Linked DNA regions of Homo sapiens. The protein of the gene in region 1 interacts with the protein of each later gene in a biochemical or structural test. Each region holds a gene or a part of one and is shown in the gene's direction. Other genes may lie near its edges.

Region 1 (7,027 bases):
ATGTACATCGGTTATATGAAATACTATGCCATTTTGTATGAGGGACTTGAGTATCTATGGAATTTGGTATTGGGAGGAGTGGTCTTGGAACCAATCTCACAGATACCGAGGGCCGACTGTACTAAGGATGAAGCTTTCTTTGCCTTAAGCTCATCTCCTTATCGACATTTCTTTTGCAACCCCTGATCCTGTTCATTCACTTGTTTATTGAGCACCTTCTTGTGCAAGTGAGGGGTTCTAAGGATAAAGACAGTGACATTGCTCTCACCTTCCCAAAGTCCTGAGCGTGCTGAACGCGAGTGTTCTTATGAACTTCTGGACCCTGGTGAGCTCGTGGGCATTTCCCATAGGCCAACAGTCAATCACAGCATTTAGACCTGGAAAACGGTAACTGCTACTTTGAGAAGGAGTGAGCAGGCTACAGAAGGAGGCATCTGATGAGAATCCTCTGCCTGGAGCCATATTAATGGCTCTGTTAAGACACATTGCACACTTGCTGTAGCCTCTTTCTCCATTTTTCCTCTCCATTGTCTTCTTGTTCTCCTAAATAACATGCGAAAGCACTTCACTTTATTTATAAAGGTATATGAATCAGTTAATGAATGTTTCTTGATTTCCTGTGTATACAAGATATTTTCTAGACCAGTTGTGGATGAGTATAAAAGAAGGAAGGGTGATAAAATGTGTAGCGTAGTCAGGGAGACAGATCGTCTGCTTTCCACAGTTTAGCATATGGCTTCTCCTCACTGCCTCATCAACACTCATACTTTGATTCTTACAGCTTTTGTCTCCTTTGCCAAGGGTACCCCAATTCAGGGCCCAGGGGGAGCAGGGGATGGGGGTGAGACAATTGCACGCAAGTCTGTATGACTACTGCTCACCAGAGGAGTGTAATATGTGTGCCGTTAGGAAAGGAGATGGGGGAGTGGAGTCTGTGTGGGCAGCCAACAAATCCCTTTCCTTACCAGATGTGCGGAGATGAGAGGCTAGACTGAGTGATAACAGTGGAAGTGGAAAAGGAGGGAGTCCACCGCTCCTTGGGATGAGTAATCCATGGGCTTTGTTAACTAGTTGATATAGAAGAGAGGAGGCATGAGTGACGCCTGACATTCCTGGGGGAATGCGCAGGCGGGGGCATTTTCCTCCTGCTTCTCCTCCTGCCGGTAGCTCTGCTTTGCTCTCCCTCTGAAGCTTGTCATTTTTGATATTAGACTTCTTCACTAGAAACAAGCTCTGGGTGGCGATGGTAGAATGTCAGTGTCAGTGAAGGCTGTTATTACAGTTTCCACAATAGTTTTGGTTGGTTTGTTTCTGTGTAGACCATAGCCCAGTGGCGTAAAGCTGGCTACCAGGACATGCCCGAGTATGAAAACTTCAAGCACCTTCTGCAGGCACCACTGGATGATGCTCAAGAAATTCTGCAAGCACGCTTCCCGATGCCACGTTACATCAACACGGAGCATGGAGGCAGTCAGGTGAGTGAGCTGAGTTCTAACTCCAGTGGTTTGTTCGTTTTATGATAGATTGTTATTGCTATACATCTAAACAGGATGGTTAATATTTTATGTGATGACATAAATTGACACACAGGTAATCTTCCAAATATGACTTCTTTTTAAATGAGTGGTCAGGCCAAGCGCGGTGGCTCACACCTGTAATCCCAGCACTTTGGGAGGCCGAGGCGGGCGGATCATGAGGTCAGGAGATCGAGACCATCCTGGCTAACATGGTGAAACCCCGTCTCTACTAAAAATACAAAAAATTAGCTGGGCGTGGTGGCGGGCACCTGTAGTCCCAGCTATTCGGGAGGCTGAGGCAGAAGAATGGCGTGAACCCGGGAGGCAGAGCTTGCAGTGAGCTGAGATCGTGCCACTGCACTCCAGCTGGGGCTACAGAGTGAGACTCCGTCTCAAAAAAAAAAAAAAAATGAGTGGTCAAAATGTGCTTATGTAAAGGGATTGCCAAGATAAAATACATATTTTATGTTTTAGGATCCTTAAATGGAGAGCCAGTGGGCTTAAGCTAAAGAAATAGATTACTGTGCAGTAAAACAATTCTAATTAGATTACTGTGCAGTAAAACAATTCTAATTTAACCAAACAAATGTTGTAAAAACTTATCTTTTTTCTGTTACATTAATATTAATGTCACTTTTTAATCTTTAAATCTTTTTGTTGTTGTTGTTGTTAAAGGCTCGATTCCTTTTGTCCAAAGTGAACCCATCTCAGACACACAATAACCTGTATGCTTGGGGACAGGTAAGAAATCTTCAGGTATTTGGGGAGGATGCTAAGCTAGTTTTTTTTTAAACTTGTTTTAAAATTCTACAAATTGGATCTCTTTTGGCCTGGAGACAGAATAACTGCGTAAGTTGGGTATTTTGCTGGGGAGTGGCGGGGAGGGAAACAAGTTGAATAACATTACTGGGCCGGAGGTTGAGGGGGCTCCCTGGGTGTGTCCCCTTCCACAATATACAGCAGAACATACCAGGTTCAGGCCAGGGGACAGAGCACTGTACTGTGGCCTCCATGGTGGTGTCCTCCGTCACACAGCCTCATGGCCCCTAGTCCTCTCCCCACCAAGAATACAGGGCAACTTGTCACCATCGGTTTTGCCGCCTCCTCACTTTCCAGCCTAATTCCTTCCCTTTTCTTCCCCCAACCCCGCCTGATTACTACTTTATCTAACTGCTCCCAGCATTTATGTCTCTCTCAGATGAGTCTTTCCTTTCATTCTGTTTTCTTAAAACATTTTTAAATTAAATTTTTTTGAGATATTGTAAATTTACATATAGTTGTAAGAAATAATACAGAGAGATCACCTGTATCTTTTACCCATTTTCCCTTAGTGTTAACATCTTGCAAAAACTATAATACAGTATCACAACCGGGATATTGAGATTTTTAAGGTCAAGATGTGCAGCATTTCCATCACCACACTTATGCACTTTATTTCTATTATTGTTACATTGTAATATATAATGAAATAATTGTACAACTCACCATAATGTAGAATCAGTGGGAGCCCTGAGCTTGTTTTCCTGCAACTAGATGGTCCCAGCTGGGGGTGACGGGAGACGGTGACAGATCATCAGGCATTAGATTCTCATGAGGAGCATGCAACCTAGATCCCTCACATGCGTTGTTCACAATAGGGTTTGCACTCCTATTAGAATCTAATACTGCTACTGATCTGATGGGAGGTGGAGCTCAGGTGGTAATGCACGTGATGGGGGAGCAGCTGTAAATACAAATGAAGCTTCACTTACTTACCTGCCACTCACCTGGTGTGTGGCCTGGTTCCTAACAGGCCAAGGACTGGTACTATCCGTGGCCTGCAGTTGGGGACCCCTGATTTAAAGTGTATGGGAGGGTATGCATAGGTTATATGCAAATGCTACACCATTTTGTATTAGGGACTTGAGCATTTGTGGATTTGGGGATCCACAGGAGGTCCTAAAACCATTCCCCCACAGATACTGAGGGATGACTGTATATAGAAATACAATTGACTTTGGTATGTTTATCTTGTATTCTGTGACCTTCCTGAGTCGCTTACTACTCTTAGGAGTTTTTTTGTAAACTTCTCAGAAATTTCTACTTAGACAATCATGTCATCTGCAAGCCGGGGACAGTTTTATTTCTTCCTTTTCAATCTGAATAACTTTTACTTTATTTTCTCAAAGAATCAGCTCTTCATTTCATTGACTTTATTATCTTTTTATTTTCAATTTCATTGATTGCTGCTCTAGTCATTGTTATTTCCTCTCTCCTGTTTGCAGTAGGTTTTTAAAAACTCTTGGCTGGGTGCGGTGGCTCACGCCTGTAATCCCAGCACTTTGGGAGGCCAAGGTAGGCAGAACACGAGGTCAGGAGTTCGAGACCAGCCTAGCCAACACGGTGAAACCCCCGTCTCTACCAAAAATACAAAAATTAGCTGGTGTGGTGGCATGCGCCTGTAGTCCCAGCTACTTGGGTGGCTGAGGCAGGAGAATTGCCTGAACCCAGGAGGCGGAGGTTGCAGTAAGCTGAGATCACGCCACTGCACTCCAGCCTGGGCAACAGAGCAAGACGCTATCTTGAAAAACAAAAAGAAGTGAATTTATTATAGACAGCTTATAGTTGGGTCATGGTTTTTAATGCACTCTGCTGAGCTCTCTTACTTGGTATATTTAGACCATTTATATATAATGTAATTAATGATATGTTAGGGCTTAAGTGTGCCATTTTATTTTTTGTTTTCTGCTTTTCTTTTTTCATCTTACGTACTTTTTTCCTGCCTTCCCATGAGTTATTTGAACATGTTTTAGGATTCCCTTCTGACTTGTTTGTAATGTTTTTGAGTGTATCTCCTTATTTAGCTTTTTAAGTGGTTGCTCCTAAGTGCCCTAGGTTTTTTTATTTTAATTGAGATGAGGTCTTGCTATGTTGCCTAGGCTGGTCCTAAACTCCTGAGGTCAAGCGATCCTCCCACCTCAGCCTCCCAAAGTGCTGGGATTATAGGCATGAGCCACCACACCTGGCCAGGCCCTAGGTATTACATCATATATGCATAACTTATCACAGTCTACTGGTGTTCAAGCGAAGTCTAGAGACCTTACCTCCCTTTTCAACACTTTACTCTCCTCCATCGGTAATATAATTATGTTAAATATTTCCTCTGCATACATTTAGTATCACATCAGACAGTGTTATAATTTTTGTTTCAAGCATCAAACATAATTGATAAGTCTTAAAAGAAAAACCTATTATATTTCTCTACATGGTTGCTTTTATTGTTTTCTTTCTTTTTAGAGATCTTTTAGCCATTCTTTTTTTCTTTTTTCTTTTCTTTTTTTTTTTTTTTTGTTTTTTTGAGATGGAGTTTTGCACTTGTTGCCCAGGCTGGAGTGCAATGGTGTGATCTCAGCTCACCGCAACCTCCGCCTCCAGGTTCAAGCAATTCTCCTGCCTCAGCCTCCCGAGTAGCTGGGATTACAGGCATGCACCACCACGCCTGACTAATTTTGTATTTTTAGTAGAGACAGGGTTTCTCCATGTTGGTCAGGCTGGTCTCGAACTCCTGACCTCAGGTGATCCGCCCGCCTCAGCCTCTGAAAGTGCTGGGATTACAGGCATGAGCCACCGCGCCTGGCCTACTTTTAACCATTCTTTTAGCATAGGTCTTCTGGTGATAGATTTTTAGTTTTCTTTTATTTGAGAATGTCTTGACGTCCCTTTCATTTCTGAAGAATATTTTCTCTGCATATAGGATTCTGACTAACAGCCCTTTTCTTTAAGCAGTTGAAAAATATTGTGCTGCTTCCTCTGGCCTTTATGGTTTCTTATGAAAAGTTCACTGTCAGTCTCATTGTTTTCCCCTGTAGAGAAGGTGTCATTTTCCTCTGGCTGCTTCCAGTAGTCTTTTTCTGTTGTTAGTTTTCAGGGTGGATGGGCAGGGGCAGAGAAGAAAGTGTAATTATGACATGTCTTGGCATGGATTTCTGTGGGTTTATCCTGTTTTGATTTACTCAGCTTTTTGCTTCTGTAGGTTTCTATCTCTTGCCAAATAGGAAAGTTTTCAGTCCTTATTTCTTTGAATGCCTTTTCACCTGCTCTCTTTTCTTTCTTTCTTGACATCCAGTGACATGAATGTTAGATCTTTTGCAGTACCCCAGGTACTACATTTCCATGTATTTTCTTTCTTTTGTTCATTTGGGTAACTTCTATTGTTTTGTCTTCCAATGTATTGATTCTTTTTTCTGTTCTCTTTCTGCATTGAACCTATGCACTGCGCTTTTTGTTTGTCACTGTATTTTTCAGTTACAAAATTTCCTTTTGGTTCTCCGTGACTTCCACTTCTTTCCTGGGACCTTGTTGTTTCTTTGCTGAGGCTTCCTATTTTTTCATTTGTTTCAAGTGTGTTTGTAATTGCTCATGAAGCATTTTTATCATGGCTGTTTTAAAATCTTTGTCAGGTGATTCTAACATTGTTGTCAACTTAGTGTTAACACCTGTCACTTGTCTTTTTTAATTCAGGTGGAGGTCTTGGTAATCACTTTGTGTAAGTGATTTTTTTATTGAAACTTGGACACTTGAGTGTTTGTATGAGACCCTGGATCTTATTTAAACCTGCTACTTTTCGCTGATTTTTTCTTACACTACTCTGACAGGGAAGGTGGTTGGTGGGGGGGGTGTCGGGGGCACTGGTGGGCTCCATTACTGCCAGGTGGAGAAGTCCAGGTTTTCCACTGGCCTCTGTTGACACCTCGGGGTGTCTAGTGATTTCTTGTTACTGCTTAGTGGGAATGAGAGTTCCAGCTCCCCCATAGCCTCCAGTGAGACCGCTGTGGAGATGGCCTTGTTACACTTGGGTGATGGTGAAAGTCCTGACCCTCCTCCAGGCCTCTGAGGCCACCCCAGTAGGCAGGCGGAGGGACATATATTTTGCCAGGTTGCGGTGGAAGTCCAGGCTCCCCAAATGGCCTCTACTGACACCACAGGGGTAGGAAAATTTTTTTACTTGGCCATTGGGGATGAACTTCCTGGTTCCATACTTAGCCTTCTCTGGCACCATCTTGGTGGGAGTATTAGGGTGCCTTGTTACTGCCTTGTGAGGGTAGAAATTGTAGCTGCCCACCCAGCCTTTGCTGGTTCAGGTGGGTCAGGGCCACAGTTTTTCCTCTCATTTTTGCCCGGAGTACAGTGGTTATTATCTAAGATTGTTCTGTCTTGCTAGGCTGCTTTAGTCCTTTGGCTAGAGAAAGTGGGTGTTTTTTGTTGTTTTGTTTTGTTTGAGTCTGTGCTCAATGACAATTTGCCAGCTTCCTCAGCTCCAAATTCAGAGTATATGAGGCATAAGAAAGCCCAAGGAACTCACTGCTGTGCATCCTTGGGTCCCAAGGTCTTTAGTTTTTCTGTCTTCTCTCCACCTTTAAAAGTCTTCTTATGTTTGGTTTACATAAGATGCCCGAAGTTTTCAGTTGTACTTAGTGGGAGGAATAGAGAAAAGTATATATTCTATTCCTTCCTCGAAATCCTCTGAAAAC
Region 2 (7,027 bases), on another chromosome or scaffold:
TTCATACACCCACATACTCTCCCTTTCCCCTTTTGCCCACTTTTTCTCTTTTCTTCTTCAATTGCCCTTTCCTTTTTAAACTTTTTTTCTTACACCTAATTGTCAGTTTAAGGATCTCTATTTGGCCTTGCAGTTAACAGTCCAGCATTTCTTTTCCAAGTGTGACCCCACTTTCTGCCCCCTGATTAAAAAAAAAAAAAAAAAAAAAGTATAGTCAAAGACCATGGTAATCAACAAGACAATTTGTTTGTGCTTCTGAGGAAATTTCACAATTTTCTGAACTCTACAGCTATTACATATTCTGTGTCTTCTCTCTGTTGAGGTCTGGATTTAATGCTTTCTTTGTATTGCTGATCCTTAAGCATGATTAGAGAAAGAATTGAGTCTAACAGAGTTACTTAGCGAAACATAGGAGCATTCCTATCCTTGGTTAAGTCTGAGCACAAAGGCATTCTCCTAATTCTGCATATAATAAAATAGAGGCAGCTGTAGTCCATTCTCTTGGGGAATATAAAGGCTTCCTTTAGCAGAATGGGTTTATGAGTCAGGGAGCCTCACTGAGAGTGTTCAGTAAGGGTATGTTGAATAAATTTTCCAAATCAAAATTACTTTCATCTGAATAGTGCCAGGCCACACTGGTTTGCATGTTTTCTTTTGTTCATTTTCCAGACTTTTTGAAAAGGCCTTTAGAGAGTTATGTGAAAAAACTAAAAGTACCAGTTCATGTAATTCGAATGGAACAACGTTCTGGATTGATCAGAGCTAGATTAAAAGGAGCTGCTGTGTCTAAAGGCCAAGTGATCACCTTCCTGGATGCCCATTGTGAGTGTACAGTGGGATGGCTGGAGCCTCTCTTGGCCAGGATCAAACATGACAGGTAATTTTCTGGTGTCTGTAAGTTTGCTTTTAGTACATTTGTCCTAAACTATATGGTGAGTTGCCAAATTCTATATTTTTTAAATAAATATAAAAGTAATTTCCTCCCAAGTTTGCTTTAAAATATCCGTGAAGAGGACTCTAAAGGAAATATCCAGAAGACCACATTCTGAAGCCTGGCAGGAATGTTTGCAAACTGTTGTACTAATGAGGAGTGATTAGGAAGCATGTCATTGGAATGTATACTATATGCTGTGTTCACCAAGCTGGAGCAGAACAGATAGATGGTGAACTCAGGGAAGACAGCATAAAACCCTTCACTTGTCCTTGCACTCTAAAGCTAATGCTGGAGCAGGCAGATCCTCTCAGCTTGTAGTGCAGCAAGAAGTAGAAGAGAATGGAGAGAAGCACATTGTGTCCTGAAATGCTTAATTTTGTATGGAAAGCACCATAATCTTAGATAATACAGGAAGAACAGTGGTGTAATGAACACCTGTGGTTATAGTTTTTCATGTTACACATTTTTCAAAGAACTCCCTATTTCTGGCTTAGTTCTTGTGCATCAGGAGAGAACCTGACTTCAGTCTGCTAGACCTATGTTGGTTGAATTTCTGCTTGTCATTGTAATTTGAGGTAGAGACTGTCCATGTTTAGATTTTAGTGGAGTGAACTTTTACTAGTCAAGTGGAACACGGTGGGAGCTAAAGCCACAGCATCTATTCTGTTTGATAGCAAATGCTGGATCTATATTTTTTCCCTTTCAAAGATGAATAAATAGGAAAACTCAGCATTGGGCCAATCAATGGGAAAGTAGAGCAGCTTTAGAAAAGAGAACATTGCCCTGAAGAATCAAAAGAATAGGATATCTGTAAATTATTTTCTTTAAATAATAGATGACGTTTTAGGGAATATTTGCTCGCCTGAAGATAACACACAACCCATAGAGAGAAAGCAAGGTGAGGTGATGACAGAAGTATGGAAGGGAGTCAGCTGAAATAGCAACCACAGTGACTTCCAGTTTGGGCTGCATGGTGGATTCGATATTCTGAATAACTTTTCCAACTGAAAAAGCTGGATAAAAGACAAAACAAATTTTAAATGCATCATTGAGTTGGCACAAAAGGAAGAAATTTGCAAATCTCGAAAAGAAGTGAGAGCAAATGTGCAGTCCAAACACTAAAGCCAGCTTTCGCTGGTAGGGTTTCTGCTGAACTTTGGGGTCACTAAGCTTCTGCCTTGAGAGACAAATAAGATGGAAGGATAGGAGACAAAAACCTAGGTCCTGCCTCAGGTGAGAAGGTTAATAGCAAACACCTGTATAAAGCTGGGCTCTTGAAATCTGTATCTTAGTATAAAGCAAGAATGAAAAATTAATCCCACCACATCAGAGAAAACTTGCCTGTCTCAACCTTGGTATGCAGTGGCAGAGGGGAAACAAATCTCCCCTAAGAATTTGTAAACAATATAGAAAAAGAGGAAACGAACCAAACTCTTTTTATGAGGCTGGTATAACTGTGATATGAAAACCAGAAAAGTACTACAAGGAAAATTACAGTGCAAATCTGTTCATGAATGCTAGTACAAAAATCTCACAATACCAGCAAACTAAACCAGCAATATACACACACACACGTGCACGTATGCGTGTAAAAAACATATCATGATATCATGACTGCTTGGTTTAGCGTAATATTACAAAAACTAATTCGTTTAATACATCCCATTAATGTATTTTTAAAACTGTGATTACAAACTTATTAAACACCTCTGATCACTCCCATAGATAATGAAAAAGGGTTCACTGAAATTTAACATGAATTTATTGTTAGAAAATACTTAGCAAACTATTATACAGTGGAAGTTTACTAATCCAAGAAAGGATGGCTTAAAAAAAAAAAAAAAGCCTTTGCAAGCAGAAATCATGTTAATGGAGAAATGTTGGAAGCATTTTTTAAAAAGATGTGGAAGAAGATGTTAATGCCCTCAATCACCAGTTAGTATTATTAGAAGTCTTTCTTAGGTTTTGCAGTACTACAGTAAATAAAGAACATTTATTTATTGGAAAAAGGAAAAGCATTGTTGTCAATTGTGTATGTGTTTGTGAAGAAAACGAATCTATACATAAAATAATAGAAACAATAAGAATTTAGCAATGTTGCCAAACACGAGATTACTATAGAAAAGTTCAGGCTAGAGCAGTGGCTCACGCCTGTAATCCCAGCTCTTTGGGAGACCGAGGTGGGCAGATCACTTGAACCCAGGAGTTCGAGACCAGTCTGGCCAACATGGCGAAACCCCAGCTCTACTAAAAATACAAAAAATTAGGCAGTCGTGGTGGTGCATGCCTATAGTCCCAACTACTTGGGAGGCTGAGTCGGGAGGATCGCTTGAACTCAGGAAGTCAAGGCTGCAATGAGCCAAGAGTGCACCATTGCCCTCTAGCCTGGGCAACAGGAGTGAGACTCCATCTCCAAACAAAAGAATGAAAAGTTTATTTCACACCAACAAGGAATACTTAGAAAATATAATGCAAAAAGAAAAGATACCATTCGTAATAGCAATGGCAGTCATAGACTACACATAGGAATATGTTTATCAAAAGATTTACTGAAATTCACGAAAAAATCTTGAGAGAGAAATGGATAGGAAAGTCAATATCATAAGAGTATCAATTCTACCCAAATTCATATATAAATTCAGTGCATTTCCAATTGAAATCTCCACAGAATTTTCTTTGAGAGACTGTACAGGCCGATTCTAGCATTGATACGGAACTGTAAAAAGAAAAAAAATAGTTGGGATGCTTCTGAAGAAGAATCAGATCTAAGGGGGCTTGCCTTACTAGGCGTCAAGACTTATTTTAAAGCTGTGTTAATTATGGCAGTGGTATATTGATGCAGGAATTCACAAATAGACTAGTGAAACAGGGTAGGGTCTAGAAACCAGCTCATTTTTGTATGTAATCTTGATTTATGACAGAGCAGTCACTCATAGTTACAGCAGAAGAAAAAGGGACCATTACATAAATAGTGGTGGAACAACTGGTTATCCATAGAAGAAATAAATGAAGTTGGATACTTACTGTATATCATAGTTAAAATCAGTCCCTTGAAGATTAAAGTCTTAAATATAAAAAACAAAAAAAAAATTTTTTTAATTAGTTGAGTGTGGTGTTATGTGATCCCAGCCGTGGTCCCAGCTACTCAGGAAGCTGAGGTGGGAAGATCACTTGAGGAGGTCGAGGCTGCAGTGGCCCCTGATTGCACTACTGCATTCCAGCCTGGGTGGTGACAGAGTAGTGATACCCTGTTTCAAGGGAAAAAATAAAAAATAAAAACACTTACTATACAATTGTTCTGTAGTTGGCATTAAACAGGAATGTTTTGAAAGATTTCTTAACTTGCTTTTATGACATCAGGAGAACAGTGGTGTGTCCCATCATCGATGTGATCAGTGATGATACTTTTGAGTACATGGCAGGCTCTGATATGACCTATGGTGGGTTCAACTGGAAGCTCAATTTTCGCTGGTATCCTGTTCCCCAAAGAGAAATGGACAGAAGGAAAGGTGATCGGACTCTTCCTGTCAGGTAATTAATTTGTCAGACATTTTGCCTAAAGTGTTATTGGCAGAAGGTTGTGGAGCTTTGGGAATCATATCAAATGGATAAGTGTATTTTGAGAAACGTGAAGCATTCGTATACCTTATGGTAGTTAACAGCCATCTTTCACATATGTGAGTGTTTTAAAGAAGGATTTCTCCTCTAATAAAATTAGAAATTTTTGCTTATTCTATAAATCTAGTGCACATGAGAAATGATGACATGCGTGTTTTTTCATTCCTTTATGAACATTTTGCAAATGCGTCAGATCTGTACTTTAATTCAGTTATTAAGGATAATAATACTTAGCTTAATTAATTGTGTCAGTATGTGAAGATACTACCTAAAACTGGGTCCTTGCATTAAAATGTACAATTTTAAATTCAGACTTGTACCATCTGGATGACAGTTATTGACTGGTAAAGTTAGAAAAGCTTGTGTAAAACATAAAAATAGCTAGAATTGACACAAAATATAAAAAAATTCATTAATCCATTTATTCTCTGATTTTTTTTCTCTACTTGGTCATATATAGATTTTTTTTTCAGGATGGAATAAAAATCTTCATGCTCTTTTTAGAACATGAAATTGAGACCTTTGAGCTCTTCTGAGCCATCCTAGAATTTAGCCCCATTGTACCGACCTGCTACTTCTGTATTAAGAGTTCCTTCAGAACCAGGCTTCAGCTTTTCTGTTTTTGGGCCTCCTGCGTCTGCCTTCCCTTGAATTCAAGTTCAGTTCTGGCAACACTGAAGAGATTTTCCACTGACTGTGTGCTTTTTTCCTTAGCCTGAGTTCTTAGTAGTAGTAGTGCAAGGGACTTTTCTTCTCTTTAGCTGTTAGTGCAATTCACTATCTAAATCAGGGGTTCCTAAACATTTCAAAAATGACAAAATTTTTTGAAAATCTGGTGAAAGCTATGGGTCTTCTCTAATGGAGAAAAATGCACATGTACATGCAGAAGATTTAGCACACAAAAAACTCAGGTCAAGAAAACCCTGTATTAAATGATAATTCTGAATTTTGGCTGTTTCTTTTAAATCCTTTTCTCATTCTTTTTTTCTTCTAAAATCAAAATAAGTCCAAACCTTTTTTGGAAACAACTGTTTCCTCTGGAAAGGCAATGAGTACATTTTAGGGTTCATCTTAAAATATAATCTTCGTGGTATCTTTGGTCCCTGTAACTTATTTTTTTCTCCTGGTTGGAGTTTACTTTTTCTCCATACTTGTTCTTTATAAAAATCAAATGGGCTGATATTCATTTATTTAAATCTTCCTTCATTTCTTAATAATTTCTCTGCTTAATTTCACATGTTCCCACTCCCTTTGCATACCTGAGCCCTATTTTGATGAATTAGACTCCTCTTTTGCAGAAAATATACCACACAGTCAGGAAGGAACATATTGATTTTATTCTATATTTTGTCTCCTCTCCTTAAAGATTTCTAGTGGGTATTAGGAAAAGACCTCACTGTTTCCATCCAGTTTATCTTATGTATTTATACTATTTGCCACCCTTTAGAACATGGCATGGTAACTCTAACCTCAATCTACTTGGTTAATATAGTCAACTGCCTTGAAGTTGCTAGGATCTGTGGAGTGGGTGCACAGTCAGATGGAGAGGATTGTGAGGAACAGCTTTAATTTAAGGAGTTTGAGATCTAAACTCAGTTAGGACCTGAGGGCCAAGAAAGATAGAAAGTACTCTTAGGACTGTGACAGAGAGGGATGTCTGGGCAGAAGCATGACACAGCAAGTCTAGCAGTCAGCATGACCATGGTGCAGGTCATGTGTGAAGACCAAATAACACAGCATAAAACACAGAAAGCCCCTGGGGCGTATGAAAGTTTATGAAGAGTGTGAGAATAAGTACTTACTCAGTAGTTATAAATAGTTATGAAACAGCTTTTAAAAACAAAAACTGATTGATTGTAAATTTTAAATTGCTAATGGTATAGCATTATTGAATTTCAGGACACCTACCATGGCAGGAGGCCTTTTTTCAATAGACAGAGATTACTTTCAGGAAATTGGAACATATGATGCTGGAATGGATATTTGGGGAGGAGAAAACCTAGAAATTTCCTTTAGGGTAAGTTCCCTTAAAAAAATTTAATCTTTTATTTAACTTCAAGTATAGATGTGCATTGATTATTCATGTATCTCTACATAAAAAATAAAAATTGAATTTAATACAAGTTTAATGTAACTTCAGAGCCTTCAGTCCATAAAAAGGACTGATAGTAAGGGTTCATTATAAACTATTGAAGCAAATAATTTAGTTACCTTTGAAGTTCAGCTATAAAACTTACACAAGATTCCCTAGTTGTTTTTAATTTTTATTATTTTCAAGGAAGTAATTTAAGCTCTAAAAGCTAATATATAGTTTGGATATGCTACTTTGCTGCTTTACTCTCAAAAACATAAATTTCACATTTAAACATAAATTTCACATTTTGTAATATGCTTTTTATTTTAGTGTGAAAATTTTTTTTATATAAAACCTAGTCACTTTACCAGCTTTATATTTTTCAATAAAAATGCGAAAGA
Region 3 (7,027 bases), on another chromosome or scaffold:
TCATTTGTATACATGACTAGTTTAGCTAAACTTTTTGTTGGTTCTTTTTGTGTTAAGATATCTTAACTTTTCTTTAGGTGGTGGAGATACCTGGGATGGTATGTGGATTGCTTTTTGACAGCATCCTTTTTGCATCTTTTTGTTTGCTAATGTCTAATTTCTGCTTTCTTTTTTCTAACCTCAGTTTGTTGGCATGAGAGTGTTTTTTTCTCTTAAAAAACCCCTACAACTAATTGGATTGATATTTTTTTTGGTGGTTTTTTATTTCGTTGACAGGAGGTATAGGTTAGGTTATTTTAAACTAATAGCACTGAAAACACAGTTGACATTTTAGTAGTAACATCTTTGTTCTTTAAGATGAATGCTAAAGAGTGGAAATTCAATGATAAGGGGACAGAAGTCCCAATTAAACATAGCTCATAGCAAATGGTGCCTTTGACTTTGTAGAAAGTCATTTTGTAGACTTCTTAACCTGAAGCTTAGTTGGATATGAAATGCAGTTCTAGGAGCCATATGTTGATATGAAGACAAGAGTTCTTTTAGCCATATGTTGCAGTTAGAGTGTTCATTGCTCAGGTTACCAGTAATAAACCCTGATTGGTTCTTGGTGGTTCTGGATAAATTGCTTACCGGGAGCCAGCACATTTGGTGGTGTTTTTTTTTGTTTTTTTTTTCCCCACAGTGCATGCCAGAGTTTTTGAAGCTAGTCATTGTTTCACACATTTCATAGTATACTATTAGCGTGGTAACATTTCTCCCAGATATTCAGTATCAGTAGAGTGTTAACATCATAAAGAAGCTGAGTTGTTTGGTTGGATTTTGAAATCTATAGAATTTAGAGAGTCCTACTACTTAGTAATTCCTGCACTCATTTTTCAGGGCCACTTATAGGGTAGGACTTGACTAATTTTCAGGGAGAATGAGGAGTTCTGAAAGGCTTTTTTGGTTTATTTTCTGGAGTTTGATCCTACTTAAATAGTTTGAAAATGTTGGTTGATGAATGTGAATATTGAACTTCTTAGATAATTTTTTAACATATATCCAAAATTCTTGCTTTTGCTTGTTAATGTCAGTGAATGGCAGCTGTCAAATCAAGCCTTCCTCTAAAGCAGTGGTTCTCAAGTGAGGATGCCCAGGGGATATTTGGCAATATCTGGAGGTATTTTTTATTCGGAAGACTGGGGGTAGGTGCTACAGGCATCTAGGACTGGAGGCCATGGAGGCTGCTAAATACCCTATAGTGCATCAGATAGCGCCCCACAGCATAGAAAAGCATTTGGTCCAAAATGGAGACAATGCCACTGCTGAGAAACCCTGCTCTATCAGTTCCATGTGGTGCATGGGGCTTCCAAAGGGAAATTTCGAGTGAGGGACGGTTTGACATTCCAATTCAACTGCCTTCAATGGTAGAGGCCCTTGGTTTCTCCTAAGAAACTTGGGGTTGTCTGCGAGAATCTGGAATCCCAGAAGAGACCCAGTCTTGGGCAGGGATGAAGAGATCCCCCTTTCCCAGGAAGGTTTCCTGGTGCTGTTTCTCTCCTGCCTGTCTGTTCATTCTCATAACGTGGCACTACCTAGAAGCACATGCTTACTCTTCAGAACAGTGCCTTGTGTGTATTTTTGGTTCAAGAGGGATGCCTGGTTGAAAACTTGTGCCGCTAAGGGCTTGTCTCTCTACTTACATTGCCTGCTGTTCCCCACTATAGTGAAACTATTACTTTGTCAAAGAAGAATGTTTGAGTTGGTGTGGATTTTCCTAAGAGCGTTTTAATGTTTTTCTCTGCTCAGCTTTATAGAGATTAAGAGTCTGTTTTGGTGCTGCTCCTGCTTCTTAATTAATATTAGAGTTACATGACTCTTAGACTTTATTTGTAGGATTACATTTTAAAAATACAGGTATTTATTTTGTGCTCTTAGTCCCCTCTCCTCAGTGTTTTACTACTTTTGCTGTAGTTAATAGTCAGTATAGTGAACTTCACATAACAACATTCCATTAGAAGAAATTTCCTGGGGTTGTTTTCCTTTCCTTAGTAAGCATTATATAGTATGTTTCCTACCCTGAAAGAGGTTTCTCTACTGGGAAGGGACTTTTAAAAATGCTTTGAGAATTAAATTGACATGATTCATATCAGTAGTCCAAATTGATGTTTGAACCATTTCAAAAGTAGCTTCTTTTGCAGGCCTTCTCTGAGGATTTTGAAAAGTTATTTTATATTATTTTATATTTTATATTTATTTTATAAGTGTTTTTCAAAAAGAGATTGCCCCAGCCTAGGCAACATAGCGAGACCCCGTCTCTAAAAAATAAAAATAAAATGGTAGTCAGGCATAGTGACGCACCCCTCAGGAGGCTGAGGCAGGGGATTGCTTGAGCCCAGGAATTTTAGGTTACAGTGAGCTATAATTGCACCACTGTACTTGAGCCTGGGTGATAGAGTGAGATCCTGTCTTGAAAAAAAAAAAAGATGGCTGGGTGCAGTGGCTCACGCATGTAATTCCAGCATTTTGGGAGGCTCAAGCAGGTGGATCACCTGAGGTCAGGAGTTCAAGACCAGCCTGACCAACATGGTGAAACCCCGTCTCTACTAAAAATACAAAAATTAGCTGGGTGTGGCAGCGTGTGCCTGTAATCCCAGCTACTCTGGAGGCTGAGGCAGGAGAATCGCTTCAGCCTGGGAGGCAGAGGTTGCAGTGAGCTGAGATTGAGCACCACTGCACTCCAGCCTGGGCAACAGAGCGAGACTCTGTCTCAAAAAAAAAAAAAAAAAGACATTGACAAATGTGTTTTGTTTTCAAATCCTTCTATAGCTCACCAGAACAAGCTAGAAGAAATGATCAATGAGCTAGCAGTGGCGATGACAGCTGTAAAGCACGAACAGGAATACATGGAAGTCCGGGAGAGAATACACAGAGCCAGTAAGTGAATGCCGTCACTTTGCAGCAGTGTCTGATGGTGAAGGTTGTTTTACTCAACAGCTTGCTCGTATTTTCCTCATTTGGAAACTTTGCAAATTTTATGTGAAAGCATTGACTTTAAAAGTGTACCTACACGAGATATTTTTTGAGCATACACATGTGTGGAGCTTTGTAGTTTATTATTGGGACATTCATTGTAAACTAGAAAATGCTATTAAGATTTAGTACAAGTTTTTAAGAGTTTAGTTTTCTGGCCGGGCATGGTGGCTCACGCCTGTAATCCCAGCACTTTGGGAGGCTGAGGCAGGCGGATCACCTGAGGTTGGGAGTTCGAGACCAGCCTGGCCAACATGGTGAAACCTCGTCTCTACAAAAAATAAAAAAATTAGCTGGGTGTGGTGGCGTGCACCTATAGTCCCAGCTACTCGGGAGGCTGAGGCATGAGAATCACTTGAACCGGGAGGCAGAGGTTGCAGTGAGCTGAGATTGGGCCACTGCACTCCAGCCTGGGCAATGGAGCTAGACTCTGTCTCAGGGAAAAAAAAAAAAAAAAGTTTGGGTTTTTAAAAATGTATGGTGAGCTAAGGAATAAGCTAATTGTTTTCTTAAATCAGAAGGGAAAAATGTTGTAAAATGCGTATTGCATTGGTTTTTAATCACATACCTGAAACTTATGTACCAGTGGGATTAATATTAGATGCTGAGATTTAACCTTTTTACTAAAATGGAAAGCTTAATATAGTTAGACTAGAAAACACCAAAACATGAGTACAGGGAAGTCACCAGGTGAAGATCAGTTTGGGTCCTCAAGTTTGTAAGTTGGGAATTTGGAATGTATTTTGCTGTGGAAACAGTGATGATTGAAATCTTGTGTTAGGTTGCAAAAGTCTGTTTAGAACTGGATAGAGCATTAAAAATGAAGCTTTTGCATTTAAAATTAAGAGGTACTATATTGACAGACAGACCAATTCCATTGATTAGGTTCAGGGCCACACCATTGTTCAGTGTTTTCATCCTCCAGGTAGTTCTTGGGGAGATGAAAAGAGCAAGGTGGCTGGGGGCAGTGGCTCACGCCTGTAATCCTAGCACTTTGGGAGGCTGAGGTGGGCGGATCACAAGGTCAAGAGACTGAGACCATCCTGGCCAACATGGTGAAATCCCACCTCTACTAAAACTACAAAAATTAGCCGGGCATGGTGGCACGCGCCTGTAGTCCCAGCTACTCAGGAGGCTGAGGCAGGAGAATCACTTGAACCCCGGAGGCGGAGGTTGCAGTGAGCTGATATCATGCCATTGCACTCCGGCCTGGCGACAGAGCGAGACTCTGTCTGAAAAAAAAAAAGGAAAAAGAGCAAGGTATAGTGACGCATCTCTGTAGTCCCAGCTACTCAGGAGGCTGAGGCGGGGGATTGCTTGGGAGCAAGCTCTTGTCTTAAGGGCAGTGATTTTATGTCAGGAATCTTTGTTCTGAGACTGGAGTAGGAAGTGAAGAGTGACTCAAAGAGATAAGCACAGCTTGAATTTCTTCCAGATGTGCTTTCTGTTTTTCCTACCCTTAAATCTGTTCTTGCTACTTATGGAAACAAATCTTCAGGATCTAGAGCACAGACATCAGCTTGTGTTGGCAGGAAGGTGTGTAAATGTAATAGCCTGGAGAACTCCCCTCATCCCCACTTGTTTTAGGAGTGGAGTGGGGCATATTATGGACCAAGGCTTGTCTACAATTACTCCAGCCTCTTGCCTCACAATTTTGTCTCCTTGCCTCCACTCTTAATCTCACCAGCTGGGATCTTCACTTTTTCTCTCTTATCTTGTTGGGACTCATATGTTGTTTACCTTGTTCCCAGATGGGGAAACAGCCCATTCTGGAGTTGGAAGGGCACTGAACTAACTCAGAGGGCAAGTTCCTCTACTTTGCAATTTTAACTGGTTCAGACCAGATGGCTTTCAAGTTATAGAAGTTCTTGGGAACACAGTGGCCAGAGGAAGCACATGTCTTCCGTCTTTAGGGTGTCCAACCTTGTTCTCTCACCCATGATTTGAGTGGAGATACTCCTGTATTTGTTTCACAAATAGTGAGCTATGTGTTCATATTTAAAAGTGTTAGCAATTTCTAGAATTGAGTTTATAGGCATTCAGTTTAAATTTACAAAGCAAATGGTTCCCATAATGTTTTGTTTTTGTGAGTCTTCCTATAGGACCCACTCCTCAGCAGTGAACATAATGAGATCCTTTCACTACAGTGTTGTAATAATAATGTGTTGCTTCTAGATCAGGCTGATATATGAGTGGCATGAGGACAGTGTCCCAGGTCACTACATTCTGATGTTACTGTGCTTCAATGTGTTCTATTTAAACTTAAAGGTGCATTTTTCTTTGGGAGGCCGAGGCAGGTGGATCACCTGAGGTCAGGAGTTTGAGACCAGCCTGGCCAACATGGTGAAACCCCGTCTCTACTAAAAATGCAAAAATTAGGCCGAGCACAGTGGCTCATGCCTGTAATCTCAGCACTTTGGGAGGCTGAGGCAGGCGAATAACGAGGTCAGTAGTTCGAGACCAGCCTGGCCAAGAGAACAGCCTGGCCAATATGGTGAAACCCCATCTCTACTAAAAATACAAAAATTAGCCAGGCACATGTAATCCCAGCTGCTTGGGAGGCTGAGATCACTTGAACCCAGGAGTTGCCTAGGCTGGTCTTGAACTCGTGGGCTTGAGTGATCCACCTGCCTCTGCCTTTCAAAGTGCTGGGATTACAGGCCTGAGCCACTGTGTCTGGCCTATTTTCTTTTTACAGACTCTCTGGTTTTTGTTGTTTTTTTTTTAGACGGAGTCTTGCTCTGTTGCCCAGGCTGGAGTGCAGTGGTGCTATCTCAGCCCACTGCAATCTCCACCTCCTGGGTTCAAGCGATTCTCCTGCCTCAGCCTCCTGAGTAGCTGGGACTACAGGCGCACGCCACCACCAAATTTTGACGTTGTAAATAATTGCATTTTGGATAACTGTGATTTTGAAATAATTCCTTAATTTTTTGTAGAAGTCAGTTTTCTGATTCAGCAAAATGGATAGTAATATAGGACGTTTCAATGGTGAGGGAGAAAGATGGTTGGATTGGGTGTTAACCCTAGAATTATGACCTTGGGCAAGTCACCTTTTCTTCTCTGCTCCCCGTATACAAGCGGAATGGACTTGGCTGTACCCAGTGAATCTTTAAGCCCAGCTAATTTTTGTATTTTTAGTAGACGGGGTTTCACCACGTTGGCCAGGATGGTTTCTATCTCTTCACCTTGTGATCCACCCGCCTTGGCCTCCCAAAGTGCTGGGATTACAGGCGTGAGCCACCACGCCAAGCCCTATTTTCTTTTTAGAGACACAGGGTCTTACTCTGTTGCCCAGCCTGTAGTGCTGTGCTGACAATACAGCTCACTGCAGCCTCAACCTCCTGGGCTCAAGTGATCCTCCCGCCTCAACCTCCCAAGTAGCTGGAACTACAGGCATGTGCCACTACACCTGGCTAATTTTTTTTTTTTTTTTTTGGTATTGTAGAGACTGGGTTTCTCCATATTGCCCAGGGTTGGCCTCTGACTCCTGAGCAAAAGCAGTCCTCCTGTCTCAGCCTCCCAAAGTCCTGGGATTATAGTGTAATTGTTTTTAATGTTGGCTATTTGCAGAAAAATAAAACACTACATAGAATTTTTTTTTTTTTTTGAGATGGAGTCTCGCTCTGTTGCCCAGGCAGGAGTGCAGTGGTGCAAACTCGGCTCACTGCAAGCTCCGCCTCCCAGGTTCACGCCATTCTCCTGCCTCAGCCTCTCGAGTAGTTGGGACTACAGGTGCCTGCCACCACGCCTGGGTAATTTTTTTTATTTTTAGTAGAGACGGGGTTTCACTGTGTTAGCCAGGATGGTCTCGATCTCCTGACCTCGTGATCCACCCGCCTCGACCTCACAAAGTGCTGGGATTACAGGCATGAGCCACTGTGCCCAGCCTACATAGTAATTAAAAGCTAAGGCTATAGAATTTGACTGGAGAGTTGGACACAATGGCTTGTGCCTGTAGTCTTAGCTGCTTCTGAGCCTGAGGCAGGAGGATTGTTTGAGGTCAGGAGCTTGAGAC

The links. The genes of interacting proteins can lie anywhere in the genome.
Region 2: the proteins of SEC23B (region 1) and GALNT1 interact in a test that uses a peptide from one of them, tested with the Homo sapiens proteins (one study listed by BioGRID).
Region 3: the proteins of SEC23B (region 1) and TMED2 interact in a test that uses a peptide from one of them, tested with the Homo sapiens proteins (one study listed by BioGRID).

The regions. Positions count from the first base shown.
Region 1 is NC_000020.11:18,552,916-18,559,942, forward strand, and holds part of SEC23B (protein transport protein Sec23B), read left to right. Parts: intron 1-1,319; coding exon 1,320-1,475; intron 1,476-2,192; coding exon 2,193-2,258; intron 2,259-7,027. UniProt on the Homo sapiens protein: Component of the coat protein complex II (COPII) which promotes the formation of transport vesicles from the endoplasmic reticulum (ER).
Region 2 is NC_000018.10:35,682,722-35,689,748, forward strand, and holds part of GALNT1 (polypeptide N-acetylgalactosaminyltransferase 1), read left to right. Parts: intron 1-669; coding exon 670-877; intron 878-3,345; exon of another isoform or gene 3,346-3,650; intron 3,651-3,958; exon of another isoform or gene 3,959-4,210; intron 4,211-4,294; coding exon 4,295-4,465; intron 4,466-6,451; coding exon 6,452-6,569; intron 6,570-7,027. UniProt on the Homo sapiens protein: Catalyzes the initial reaction in O-linked oligosaccharide biosynthesis, the transfer of an N-acetyl-D-galactosamine residue to a serine or threonine residue on the protein receptor.
Region 3 is NC_000012.12:123,587,534-123,594,560, forward strand, and holds part of TMED2 (transmembrane emp24 domain-containing protein 2 isoform 1 precursor), read left to right. Parts: intron 1-77; coding exon of another isoform or gene 78-98; intron 99-2,808; coding exon 2,809-2,916; intron 2,917-7,027. UniProt on the Homo sapiens protein: Involved in vesicular protein trafficking. Mainly functions in the early secretory pathway but also in post-Golgi membranes.